3 linked regions of the Homo sapiens genome follow. The protein of the gene in region 1 purifies or fractionates together with the protein of each later gene. This does not show direct contact. Each region holds a gene or a part of one and is shown in the gene's direction. Other genes may lie near its edges. The genes, in order: INPP5D, CD22 and CLYBL.

What was found.
Region 2: the proteins of INPP5D (region 1) and CD22 purify together in Homo sapiens (affinity purification with western blotting; one study listed by BioGRID). This does not show direct contact.
Region 3: the proteins of INPP5D (region 1) and CLYBL purify together in Homo sapiens (affinity purification with western blotting, with the first as the bait; one study listed by BioGRID). This does not show direct contact.

Annotation. Positions count from the first base shown.
Region 1 is NC_000002.12:233,161,260-233,164,904, forward strand, and holds part of INPP5D (phosphatidylinositol 3,4,5-trisphosphate 5-phosphatase 1), read left to right. Parts: intron 1-464; coding exon 465-567; intron 568-2,447; coding exon 2,448-2,644; intron 2,645-3,047; coding exon 3,048-3,165; intron 3,166-3,645. UniProt on the Homo sapiens protein: Phosphatidylinositol (PtdIns) phosphatase that specifically hydrolyzes the 5-phosphate of phosphatidylinositol-3,4,5-trisphosphate (PtdIns(3,4,5)P3) to produce PtdIns(3,4)P2, thereby negatively regulating the PI3K (phosphoinositide 3-kinase) pathways.
Region 2 is NC_000019.10:35,335,682-35,339,326, forward strand, and holds part of CD22 (B-cell receptor CD22 isoform 1 precursor), read left to right. Parts: intron 1-354; coding exon 355-660; intron 661-2,073; coding exon 2,074-2,340; intron 2,341-2,486; coding exon 2,487-2,750; intron 2,751-3,645. UniProt on the Homo sapiens protein: Most highly expressed siglec (sialic acid-binding immunoglobulin-like lectin) on B-cells that plays a role in various aspects of B-cell biology including differentiation, antigen presentation, and trafficking to bone marrow.
Region 3 is NC_000013.11:99,605,425-99,609,572, forward strand, and holds the start of CLYBL (citramalyl-CoA lyase, mitochondrial isoform 1 precursor), read left to right. Parts: upstream 1-1,265; 5' UTR 1,266-1,271; coding exon 1,272-1,333; intron 1,334-4,148. UniProt on the Homo sapiens protein: Mitochondrial citramalyl-CoA lyase indirectly involved in the vitamin B12 metabolism. Converts citramalyl-CoA into acetyl-CoA and pyruvate in the C5-dicarboxylate catabolism pathway.

The DNA of each region.
Region 1 (3,645 bases):
TTTGTATTTTTAGTAGAGACAGGAGTTTCACCATGTTGGTCAGGCTGGTCTCGAACTCCTGACCTCAGGTGATCCACCCACCTCGGCCTCCCAAAGTGCTGGGATTACAGGCATGAGCCACCACACCTGGCCCTCTGATACATTATTAATGAATCTCCTAAGGCTGGACAGTAAGGTTGCTTCTGATTTTTTTCTGTGCTGAGGCCTGTGCTGCAGAGCCGTGACAGGGTTGGACTTCTGCGCAGCTCCTGATCACTTTGTTAAAGTCGCACCTTTGCAGGGGAGTGTCTAGGCCAGAAGCCACTCGCTTATGACTTTGGACACATGTTTCCAGGTTGCTGTCCTGGAAGTTCACACTGATTTACGCTCCTCTCAGTTTTCTTGAAGCTGACCAAGTCCTTTGCAAAGTGTAATGTGCAGGGAGGCAGAGGCCTTTCTAAGTCTGTCTGCCCTTCCATCCCTAGAAGAGAGAAGGCTTCTGCCAGCTCCTGCAGCAGATGAAGAACAAGCACTCAGAGCAGCCGGAGCCCGACATGATCACCATCTTCATCGGCACCTGGAACATGGGTGGGTCCGCGCGCCCCCTCCCTGCAGTCACCCCCTCTGCTTCTGCTTTCCTGACTCAGGCATCCTCAAGGTGGGGTGGAGTGACGACATCCATGTCCCCTTCCTTCCTGCCCCAGGGCCCTGCCCCTAAGCCCCAGCCCACCCGCACAACCTCCTTCCTGAGGAATTCCACCCTTTTCCTGAGATGATGGGTAAGAAAAACGAGCTTTGGGACTATCGTACCCCAAGAGCAGCTGGCGTGGGTTACTCTGTATGTCTAAATTGGAAAGTTTTAGGGAAAGAGTCTGAATATCTAGGTGAAGGGGCTCATGGGAACCCTGCCAGCCCTAGGCAGCTCACCAAGGGGCCCCAGGCCTGAGAGAAAGAAGTCCACCCTGAGTAGGGTTGCCAGATTTATCAGGAGAGAGACAGAGAGAGACAGAGAGATAGGTACGTAGACAAAGGATGCCCAGTTAAATTTTAACTTCATAGAAACAATTTTTTTTAGTATATGTTTAGCTACAAACAAATAAATACTAAATATATATGCTCATAGACATTATGCTGAATATATAGTATATATACATATGCTAAATAAGTGTAATTATTATATTAAATATGAATTATACTAAGTAATATTAGTTTAAGCATACAGCTAATAATATACTAAATATATGCTAAATATATTTTGTATTAAACATATATATTGTGTATTTACTAAACACATGCACTCTACTAAATATAAATAATACTAAATAATTTTTTAGTGTAAGTGTTCAGGTAGAAATAAATTAGATAGAAGACATCCAGATAAACTTATTCTAAAAACTACCAGTTTATCTGAAATTGGAATTTCACTGGGTGTCGTGTGTCCCCTACCCTTGTCCTGAGAGGAGTCTGGGAGGAAGAGGGTGAGCAGTGGCTGGCAGGGGCCTCCTGGAAGTGAAGTGACAGCTTGTCACTCGTGTCCCAGGGCCACAGCAGCCGTGGAGTAGAGCCCGGGCCAGTGCCCCAGGGGGTCACTTGTCCCCTTCGGTCCCTTTCAGTGTTTCTAATAAGAGACAATAGTCTGCCTGATCTCCTCCCTCTGGACATGGTCAGGGATGTCCATGACACAAGGGCAGGGGTGCCCTTCCCACAGAAGAGTATGGAAGGAGCCAGCTGAGGCCATGCCGCAGGAGGGCCGGGGACCCACCAGCCCGGGGGTTCGGGCACCCACTTTGAGCCTCTTGGGGGAGCAGAATTTAGCCACAGTCCATTTACTCCAATGCTTGGCTTCTTTGCACTTGTAAGGCAAGAAGCTCATCTCTTTGAGGAACAAAGTTTGCTCATCCTTCAAGGGCATTGTAGGGAGAACCGTTCAAAATTTCTTGATTGAGCTTCTTCAACTCAGTTTTGAAATGGGAATGCGGAGGAGTTTCCACACTCTCCCGTTTCTCTGGCTCACACCCAGGCATCCCTCCGCTCTGGGCTGGGATCTGTCTTGCAAGGGAGACTTTGTTGTCTCCCAACAATGGGTTAGAACCCGCCATCTAAAACTTGTCAGTTCCCTTGGCTGTCTTGAGAATAGGATGTGAGTTCCTTGAGGGACAGGACTGTGTCTCAATTATCGTAGCCTCAAAGTGCAGGACAGTGTCTGACATCAGGGAATCTTCTGGTGTTTCTATACCTTGAAACTTGACATTACGTTTAAAAAGAGGCTTAACTGAGCTCTAGCCCTAACCGACATCCTGGGTGAGGTTGGCGCCCAGGCCTCCATTGCAGGCATTTCTTTGGGCTGCCTGGATGGTCTTGTGTAATGACGTGACCTCCCTCACACTCCCGCCCTCTGTTTTGAATTCTCCTAATGCTTTGACTCGATGTGCCTTTGACTCACTTGGTGTTGGGTTTTGCTGTTGAAGGTAACGCCCCCCCTCCCAAGAAGATCACGTCCTGGTTTCTCTCCAAGGGGCAGGGAAAGACGCGGGACGACTCTGCGGACTACATCCCCCATGACATTTACGTGATCGGCACCCAAGAGGACCCCCTGAGTGAGAAGGAGTGGCTGGAGATCCTCAAACACTCCCTGCAAGAAATCACCAGTGTGACTTTTAAAACAGTGAGCAGCTGGCTGCACGCTGGGTGGGCTTCCGGGATAGAATCTTTGCTCGGCTGGGCTGTCTCAGAGGCAAGGGTGGGCTCAGCCTATCAGCTCTCAGTTTTCAAGGATGTCTGGAGGCCCCCACTGAGAGATGCGTCTGTATTCAGAAATAAATGGGATCTGTGGGGTATTGCTGAAAACCACTGAGTCCTCTATCTTCCCACCCTTGGTCAGCCCCGGTTCTCATCTTTAGGATGTTTTGTCTCGCCTATCAAGCATCGCTGGGAGTCCCCCGAAGGGTTGGGATTACAGACAGGATACCCCATACCCAGGGGCTGCGGCTGGGGCTGGGTGTGAATCACTGTGCCCTGGTTCACACCCTACACTTGGGCCGAGTATTGCAACGTTGTCCTCCCACCAGGTCGCCATCCACACGCTCTGGAACATCCGCATCGTGGTGCTGGCCAAGCCTGAGCACGAGAACCGGATCAGCCACATCTGTACTGACAACGTGAAGACAGGCATTGCAAACACACTGGGTGAGCAGGGCGGGGACCCTGTGTTCCTCCCACACCCTCTGCCTCAACTCTCGCGACCACATCATCCTGATCCCACCAGTAGTTCCCCGGGTTAAAAACAGAGAGCCTCACATCCTCAGATCCTGGCTCAGTCCTCAGCAAATAGGGGTGATTGGTCTCCCTGGCTGAAACTCACTCAGGGTCTACACCAGCAGTCCCAGGGATCTAGCTAAAATGCAGGTTCCGACCCAGTAGATCTTGGGTGGAGCTCAGGGTTCCAAGTTTCTGACAGGTTCCCAGGCGACTTGAGCGCTGCTGGTCGGCCCGTGGGACCCATTTTAAGAAGCAAGAACCTAGAAGAGGCATTGGCCAACTTTTGCAGGAAAGGGAAGGGCCTGACAGTAAATATTTCAGGCTTTGCAGGCCACTCAACACTATTCCTCTCTGCCTTTCTGGTGGGAAAGCAGCCATAGGCAACCCAGAAAGCGAATGGGAGTGACT
Region 2 (3,645 bases), on another chromosome or scaffold:
GTCTCTACTAGAAATACAGAAAAATTAGCTGGGTGTGGTGGTGGGCACCTGTAATCCCAGCTACTCGGGAGGCTGAGGCAGGAGGATCACTTGAACTGGGGAGGTAGAGGTTACAGCGAGCCAAGATCGCGCCACTGCACTCCAGCCTGGGTGACAGAGGGAAACTCCATCTCAAAAAAACAACAACACAACAACAACAACAATAACAACAAAAAAACAAAGCAGGACTGGAGAGAGGTGGAATGAAGTGGCAAGGGGTTCCTGAGGGGTGATTTGGGACAGGACATCTAAAGCCAGGTGTACGCTCACGTCCTCAGTCCCCCAGGCTCCTGCACGGGCTCTGTTCTTTTGCAGAAAGGCCTTTTCCACCTCATATCCAGCTCCCTCCAGAAATTCAAGAGTCCCAGGAAGTCACTCTGACCTGCTTGCTGAATTTCTCCTGCTATGGGTATCCGATCCAATTGCAGTGGCTCCTAGAGGGGGTTCCAATGAGGCAGGCTGCTGTCACCTCGACCTCCTTGACCATCAAGTCTGTCTTCACCCGGAGCGAGCTCAAGTTCTCCCCACAGTGGAGTCACCATGGGAAGATTGTGACCTGCCAGCTTCAGGATGCAGATGGGAAGTTCCTCTCCAATGACACGGTGCAGCTGAACGTGAAGCGTGAGTCTCCCCGGCATGCCTGTGGGAAGGGCAAGGTCTGTGTCACCTTCTCCCCAGCCCCGCAGGGGGCATGCACCCAGGGCAGGGGGAAGCCTGCACAGACGGCGGCATCCTCCAGCCCTGGTCACGCCGCCTTGTCAGCCCTGGTGTTTCGGGAAAAAGATTTGCTCTAGCCTAACAGAATAAAATGGTCCATCCTCAAGCCATGACATGAATTGGGGATTATCTGGTTAGGTCTTTTTGTTCCCCTCTTGGTGGGGATTTTTTTCGCATCATTATCTTGTGCCTCATTCATTCAATAAATACGTATCATGAACCTACTAGGTACCAGGCCTTATTACGGCTGCCAATGGGGGGCATGGGGCGGTGGGCAGGGTGCAGCAGTGAGCAAAACTCTTGCCCCACGCGGAGCCAGCGCTGCAGTGAAAGAGACAGACAACAAATGGATTACCAAAGAAATACAGAGCATGAGCCAAGACATTAGAATCTGGAACAAAGCAATGTTAACAAAGAAATATACAACACTATTGTAGGTAGTGATATGTGTGTTAGGAAAAAAATAAGGCCGAGAGAGGGGAGTGATGGAGAGAGACCTCTCTAAGAAGGTGAGCACTTAGGCCGGGTGCGGTGGCTCACGCCTGTAATCCTAGCACTTTGGAAGGCCGAGGCGGGGGGATCACAAGGTCAGGAGATCGAGACCATCCTGGCTAACATGGTGAAACCCCATCTCTAGTAAAAATACAAAAAATTAGCCAGGCATGATGGCAGGCGCCTGTAGTCCCAGCTACTTGGGAGGCCAAGGCAGGAGAATGACATGAACCCAGGAGGCGGAGCTTGCAGTGAGCTGAGATCGCACCACTGCACTCCAACCTGGGTGACGAGTGAGACTCCATCTCAAAAAAAGAAAAAAAAAGAAGGTGAGCACTTAAGCTGACTGGAACGGAGGGAGTGGCTGAGGCCGGCACATATTTGGGAGAGGAGGATTTCAGGGAAAGAGAAGGGCAGGTTCAAAGCTTTGAGGCAGCAGCTGGGTGGGAGGACCTCAGAGGCTGAAGTTCACCGCCTCTGAGGGCCACATGGTAGGACAGGAGGCAGGAGATGGAGCAGGACTCTGGATCCCGAGGGCTGAGGTGAGGGTTTGGGATTCTATGCAAAGCACAGAACCCGCTCGTGGTTTCCAGCAGGATTGGCGAGGTCTGGTAGATGGTGTTAGGAACCCTGCGTGCTGCTGGTGGAGACCAAGAAGTAGAGGAAGTGGGAGGGGGAAGCTGAGAGCCGAGTTAGGAGGCTGTGACCATCACCTGGGTGAAGGGACTGGCAGGCCATGGCTTTGTCAGAATAAAAGCACTTTCCACACCCTCCACCCTCTGAGGATTCCCCGCCCCCTCCCCGACTGCCCCTCTGCTCCTCCAGACACCCCGAAGTTGGAGATCAAGGTCACTCCCAGTGATGCCATAGTGAGGGAGGGGGACTCTGTGACCATGACCTGCGAGGTCAGCAGCAGCAACCCGGAGTACACGACGGTATCCTGGCTCAAGGATGGGACCTCGCTGAAGAAGCAGAATACATTCACGCTAAACCTGCGCGAAGTGACCAAGGACCAGAGTGGGAAGTACTGCTGTCAGGTCTCCAATGACGTGGGCCCGGGAAGGTCGGAAGAAGTGTTCCTGCAAGTGCAGTGTGAGCCCCTCGGAGCTGGGGACAGGCCAGGCAGGGAGGTAGCAGGGGTGGACCCGGAGAGGGGAGCCACGGGGGCTCTCGGGGCCGTGTGCACAGGTTGGGGGTGCTCTCCTCACCCCTCCACTCGCCTCTGCCCCCTCTTCCAGATGCCCCGGAACCTTCCACGGTTCAGATCCTCCACTCACCGGCTGTGGAGGGAAGTCAAGTCGAGTTTCTTTGCATGTCACTGGCCAATCCTCTTCCAACAAATTACACGTGGTACCACAATGGGAAAGAAATGCAGGGAAGGACAGAGGAGAAAGTCCACATCCCAAAGATCCTCCCCTGGCACGCTGGGACTTATTCCTGTGTGGCAGAAAACATTCTTGGTACTGGACAGAGGGGCCCGGGAGCTGAGCTGGATGTCCAGTGTGAGTAGCCACGGAGCCTCTGGTTCTAGGGAGAGAAGATGGACACAGGGAACGGGGAAGGCAGATGGGGTGCAGGGCATTCCGGGGTCCTGGAGTCAAGAGCAAGGAGCAGCCAGGGTCTCCTGTTCACAACTGCTGTCTCAGCTCCTAGCATAGGGCCTGGCTCATGGAGGGTGCTTGGTAGATGCTTGTTTTTTTGTGTTTTAGTTTTTTTTGAGATGGAGTCTCCCTCTGTCTCCCAGGCTGGAGTGCAGTGGCACAATCTCGGCTCACTGCAAGCTCCACCTTCCCGGGTTCATGCCATTCTCCTGTCTCAGCCTCCTGAGTAGCTGGGATGACAGGCGCCCGCCACCACGCCCGGCTAATTATTTGTACTTTTAGTAGAGACGGGGTTTCACCGTGTTAGCCAGGATGGTCTCGATCTCCTGACCTCGTGATCCACCCGCCTCGGCCTCCCAAAGTGCTGGGATTAGAGGCGTGAGCCACCGCACCCGGCCTGTAGATGCTTGTTGAATGAATGAGGCCAGGTGCGGTGGCTCCCGCCTGCAATCCCAGCTCTTTAGGAGGCTGAGGCAGGAGGGTCTCTTGAACCCAGGAGTTTGAAACCAGCCTGGGCCACACAGCGAGATACCATCTCTACAAAAAAATACAAAAATTAGCTGAGCATGGTGGTGCGTGCCTGTGGTCCCAGCTACTGGGGAGGCTGAGGAGGGAGAATCACTTGAGCCCAGGAAGTGAAGGCTGCAGACTGAACTATGTTCCTGCTACTGCACTCTAGCCTGGGTGACAGAGCAAGACCTGGGTCTCAAAAAGAAAAAGAAAATGCTGGGACTGGGATTATAGGTGTGAGCTGGGCACAGTGGCTCACACTTGTAATCCCAGCACTTTGGGAGGC
Region 3 (4,148 bases), on another chromosome or scaffold:
TCTCAAAAAAAAAAAAAAAGTAATATTCTAAACTAAAAACCAAGATAATGGAAAAATCCCATTATGAACAAAATATCAAAATTTTAATTAAAGACAGGATTGGTGTTACTGAAATTGCCTTTGCCTCAGGCTTCAGTATGGCTGGACCGGGCACTGGCTGGGACTAAGGTGGTGACAAGAAAGTGACCAAATTGGAGTAGACAGGCGAGGCCTGAGGTGGAGCAGGCGTGGGAGCTGGGGGAGGGCACCAAGGGGTTGAGCAGTCTCCCCTGTTGGTATCGAATATAACAATAATTCTTAGGCTCAGCAGAAGTTTAGCATCCATGTTCCCAGTCACCTGGACTTTTCCAAATCTTGGAACCCCCTCTGGCTGAAAAGGCTTTTGTTTGTTTAAACGGCCACTTTTTGCATCCAAGAGCACAAGTCAGCTTCCACTGGAAGGTTCTGAGAAACGGTTTCAGGTTTAAGTCTAGAGCATGAATGGAACGGAGTCACAGCTGAAAAAGAAACATGCCGAGTGCCAAGGAAAAGACATGGTTAAGGGGTAACATGGGCCCGGGTAGGTGAAGGTCGGCAGGTGGAGGCCGGCTGGATCAGGGAAGGTGAAAGAAGAGGCAGGGGCAGGGCCCAGCCTGTTTTAACGCCTCGGCGTTCTCACCGCTGCAGAACGGCTGCAGGGGGCAGAGTAAAGAGCTGCTGTCAGTTTCCCTGCCCAGAGAGTGCCAACAGCTGCTCTGACCTATTGCAGGCATGTGTGTTCCAGGATGCAGCCTTCCTGCACTTTGACCACTCTAGATTAATTGCTAACCAAGATATGCACATGATGGGGCTCACAAAGTATTAGGCGGTATTTTAACAACAAAAGCTGCGAAGAAATCCCTAGAAATGTTGGCTCTTCTGGCTGGGAAAACGCAGTCTGTCAACAGTTGCCTCAAAAACTCAGAAGCTCAGAGAGTTGGATTCGGTCACCAGAGAGGCCCCTCAAAGAGGCCCCAACCATTCAGATCCTCTGCTCTGTCCCCCATGACAGCGGGGACGAAGGTCCTAAGCCCTGGCCGGGAGGGCAGTTGACCTCGGGACTCGCCGCGGGGCGGAGCGGGTGCTGGGAGGAAGGAGGGCGTGGCTGGCGGGGTGTGGCTGGCGGGACGGGGCGGGGCGAAGACAGAGCGAGGCGGGGCCTGGGACGGGGGGGGGGTCGGTGTCGCCGTGGGGGCGTGGAATGTGGGGTGGGCGTGGCTAAAGGCAAAGGGCGGGGCGCGCGCGTCGGGAAGATGGCGCTACGTCTGCTGCGGAGGGCGGCGCGCGGAGCTGCGGCGGCGGCGCTGCTGAGGCTGTGAGTGCAGGTCCCCGTTCCCCGCCTTCCCGGCCCGGCTCGCCGCGGGTCGGCTCCTGTTGCAGCCCCGCGGGCCGGGCGCGGCCTCCCCAAGCCCTCACGGGAACCCAGCCGGACGGAAGCACCATGCGCCTCCCACGCGCTGGCTCGACCTCGTCCAAGGTCGCTGCCGCCCGCGCCTCCCTTTGGGAGGGCCCTCGTTGCACCCGGAAAATGGGTACACACCTTAGGTCGAATTACCTGGACTCAGCCCCAGGAAACAAAACTGCCTGCCTCCCCCAAATGGCAAACGTGAACGCGCCAGTCTTTGAGAGGCGGCTTGCCTGGTGAAGAACACCTGCGGTTCGTTTAACACAGCGGTTCCCAAACGGTTTGGTCTCAGGACCCGTTTACACGTCTAAAAATAATTTGAGGACCCCCCAAAGCTTTTGCTTATATCTATTGATTTTTGTGCATGAGGAATTAAACCAGAAATTTAAAAAATATTCACTTAATAACAAACCCATTAACTTTTAATACAAATAACACTTTAATGCATAACTTCTCAAAAAAAAAGTGAGAAGATTGGCTCATGGTTTTTATATTTTTGAAAATTTCTTTGGTTTAATAAAGGACAGCTGGAGTCTCATATCAGCTGTTTTGAAGGAAATATTTGAAAGAAATTCTGGGCTCATGCAGATGCAGATATTAGTTGGGAAAGGGAGGACCAAGCAGACCCTCTCAACGGGTCTCAGGGACCCCCTCAGGTGTCTTTGGACCACACTTTGAGAACCGCTGGTCTAGCACTTGCCCATCGCCTAGGTACGTGCACATACATGGTCTCATTTGGTTCCCTTGACCACCATGTGAAGAAGTTGGGTGTCATGTTTATAAAGATGAAAAAACAGGGTCAGAAAGGTTAAGGATTCTCAAAGCCCTATGACCAGTAATGAGAGAGTTTGGTTCAAACACTAAGTGTATGGCTCCTGGTCTGGAACTTCTTTATTTATTTATTTTTATTTTTTGAGACAGAGTCTCGGTCTGTCACCTAGGCTGTAGTACAGTGGTGTAATCTCGGCTTACTGCAACCTCCACCTCCTGGGTTCAAGCGATTCTCATGCCTCAGCCTCCTGAGTGGCTGGCATTACAGGTGTGCACCACCACCCCTGGCTAATTTTTGTATTTTTAGTAGAGACAGAGTTTCGCCATGTTGGCCAGGCTGTTCTCGAACTCCTGACCTCAAGGGGGTCCACCCGGATCAGCCTCCCAAAGTGCTGGGATTACAGGCGTGAGCCACCATGGCCGGCCTGGTGGTCTGGAACTTCTTTTTTTTTTTTTTTTTTTTTTTTTCCGAGATGGAGTTTCGCTTTTGTCGCCCAGGCTGGAGTGCAATGGCGCCATCTCAGCTGACTGCAACCTCCGCCTCCCGGATTCAAGTGATTCTCCTGCCGCAGCCTCCGGAGTAGTTGGGATTACAGGGCGTCCGCCACCATGCCCGGCTAATTTTTGTATTTTTAATAGAGACGAGGTTTCACCATGTTGGCCAGGCTGGTCTGGAGCTCCTGACCTCGGGTGATCCACCTGCCTCGGCCTCCCAAAGTGTTGGGATTAAAGGCGTGAGCCACCGTGCCCGGCCTGGGTCTGAACTTCTTACGTCTTCTTGCACTGTGACTCTTCAGTCACCCATGTCCTATGGGAGGACCCACCTAGTCTTATGCATCCCACTTTCCCATTTCCTCCGCTGCCCCTGGCACAGGGGAGTCACCCCTCGCCCTAGAGGAGCAGCTCAGGCAGTGTATCCAGGCTGGTCCAGAAGGGTCCTTTTCTGGCGCCTTTTGAGGGGGCCAGCGTCTGTGACCTGTTCAGTAGCGGGTCCAGTGAGCGCACACAGTCCCCACGCCAGTACGCTGGGGGTTAACTCAGTGCTCCTCACCCGCCTTAGCACACTGGTCTGTTCTCGACATGTCTACCCGCTGAATATAGGATTCTTGATTGGCATTTTTTTTCCTTTGAGCATTTTAAAGCGTATTATCGCACTGTCTTTTTGCCTCCATTATTCTAATGAGAATTCAGACGTTAATGTTATTAGGGTTCTATGTAAGTGATGAGTCTTTTTTTTTTTTTTTTTTTTTTTTTTTTTGCTTGATTTTCTCTTTGTCTTGGTCTTTCGGTGGTTTTATTATGATGTGTGTAGATCTGTTTGAGTTTATCCTCTTGGAAGTTTATTGAGTTTCTTGGATGTGTATACATCAAATTTGGGAAGTTTTTGGCTATTGTTCTCTCAAAAAAGTCTACTCTCTTATCTCTCTCTTCTCTTTCGGAGGCTCCCATTGCGTATATGTTGGTGTAGTTGATGGAACCCCACAGGTCTTTGAGACTGTTCCATTTTCTTTCTGTTCCTCAGGCTGGACAATGTCAATTGACCTGTCTTTGTTTTTTTTTTTTTTTTTTTTTTTTTTGAGACAGAGTCTTGCTCTGTCACCAGGCTGGAGTTCAGTGGCGCAATTTCTGCCCACTGCAACCTCTGACTCCCGGGTTCAAGCGATTCTCCTGCTCCAGCTTCCCGAGTAGTTGGGATTACAGGCACGCGCCACCACGTCCAGCTAATTTTTGTATTTTTAGTAGAGACGGGGTTTCACCATGTTGGCCAGGATGGTCTCGATCTTCTGACCTCGTGATCCACCTGCCTTGGCCTCCCAAAGTGCTGGGATTACAGGTGTGAGCCACCGTGCCCAGCCGACCTGTTTTTAGGTTTGCTGATTGCTCCGTCTTCCAACTCAAATCATTTTCATTTTAATCCAGAACTTCTTTCTTTTTGGAGAATGAGTCTCACTCT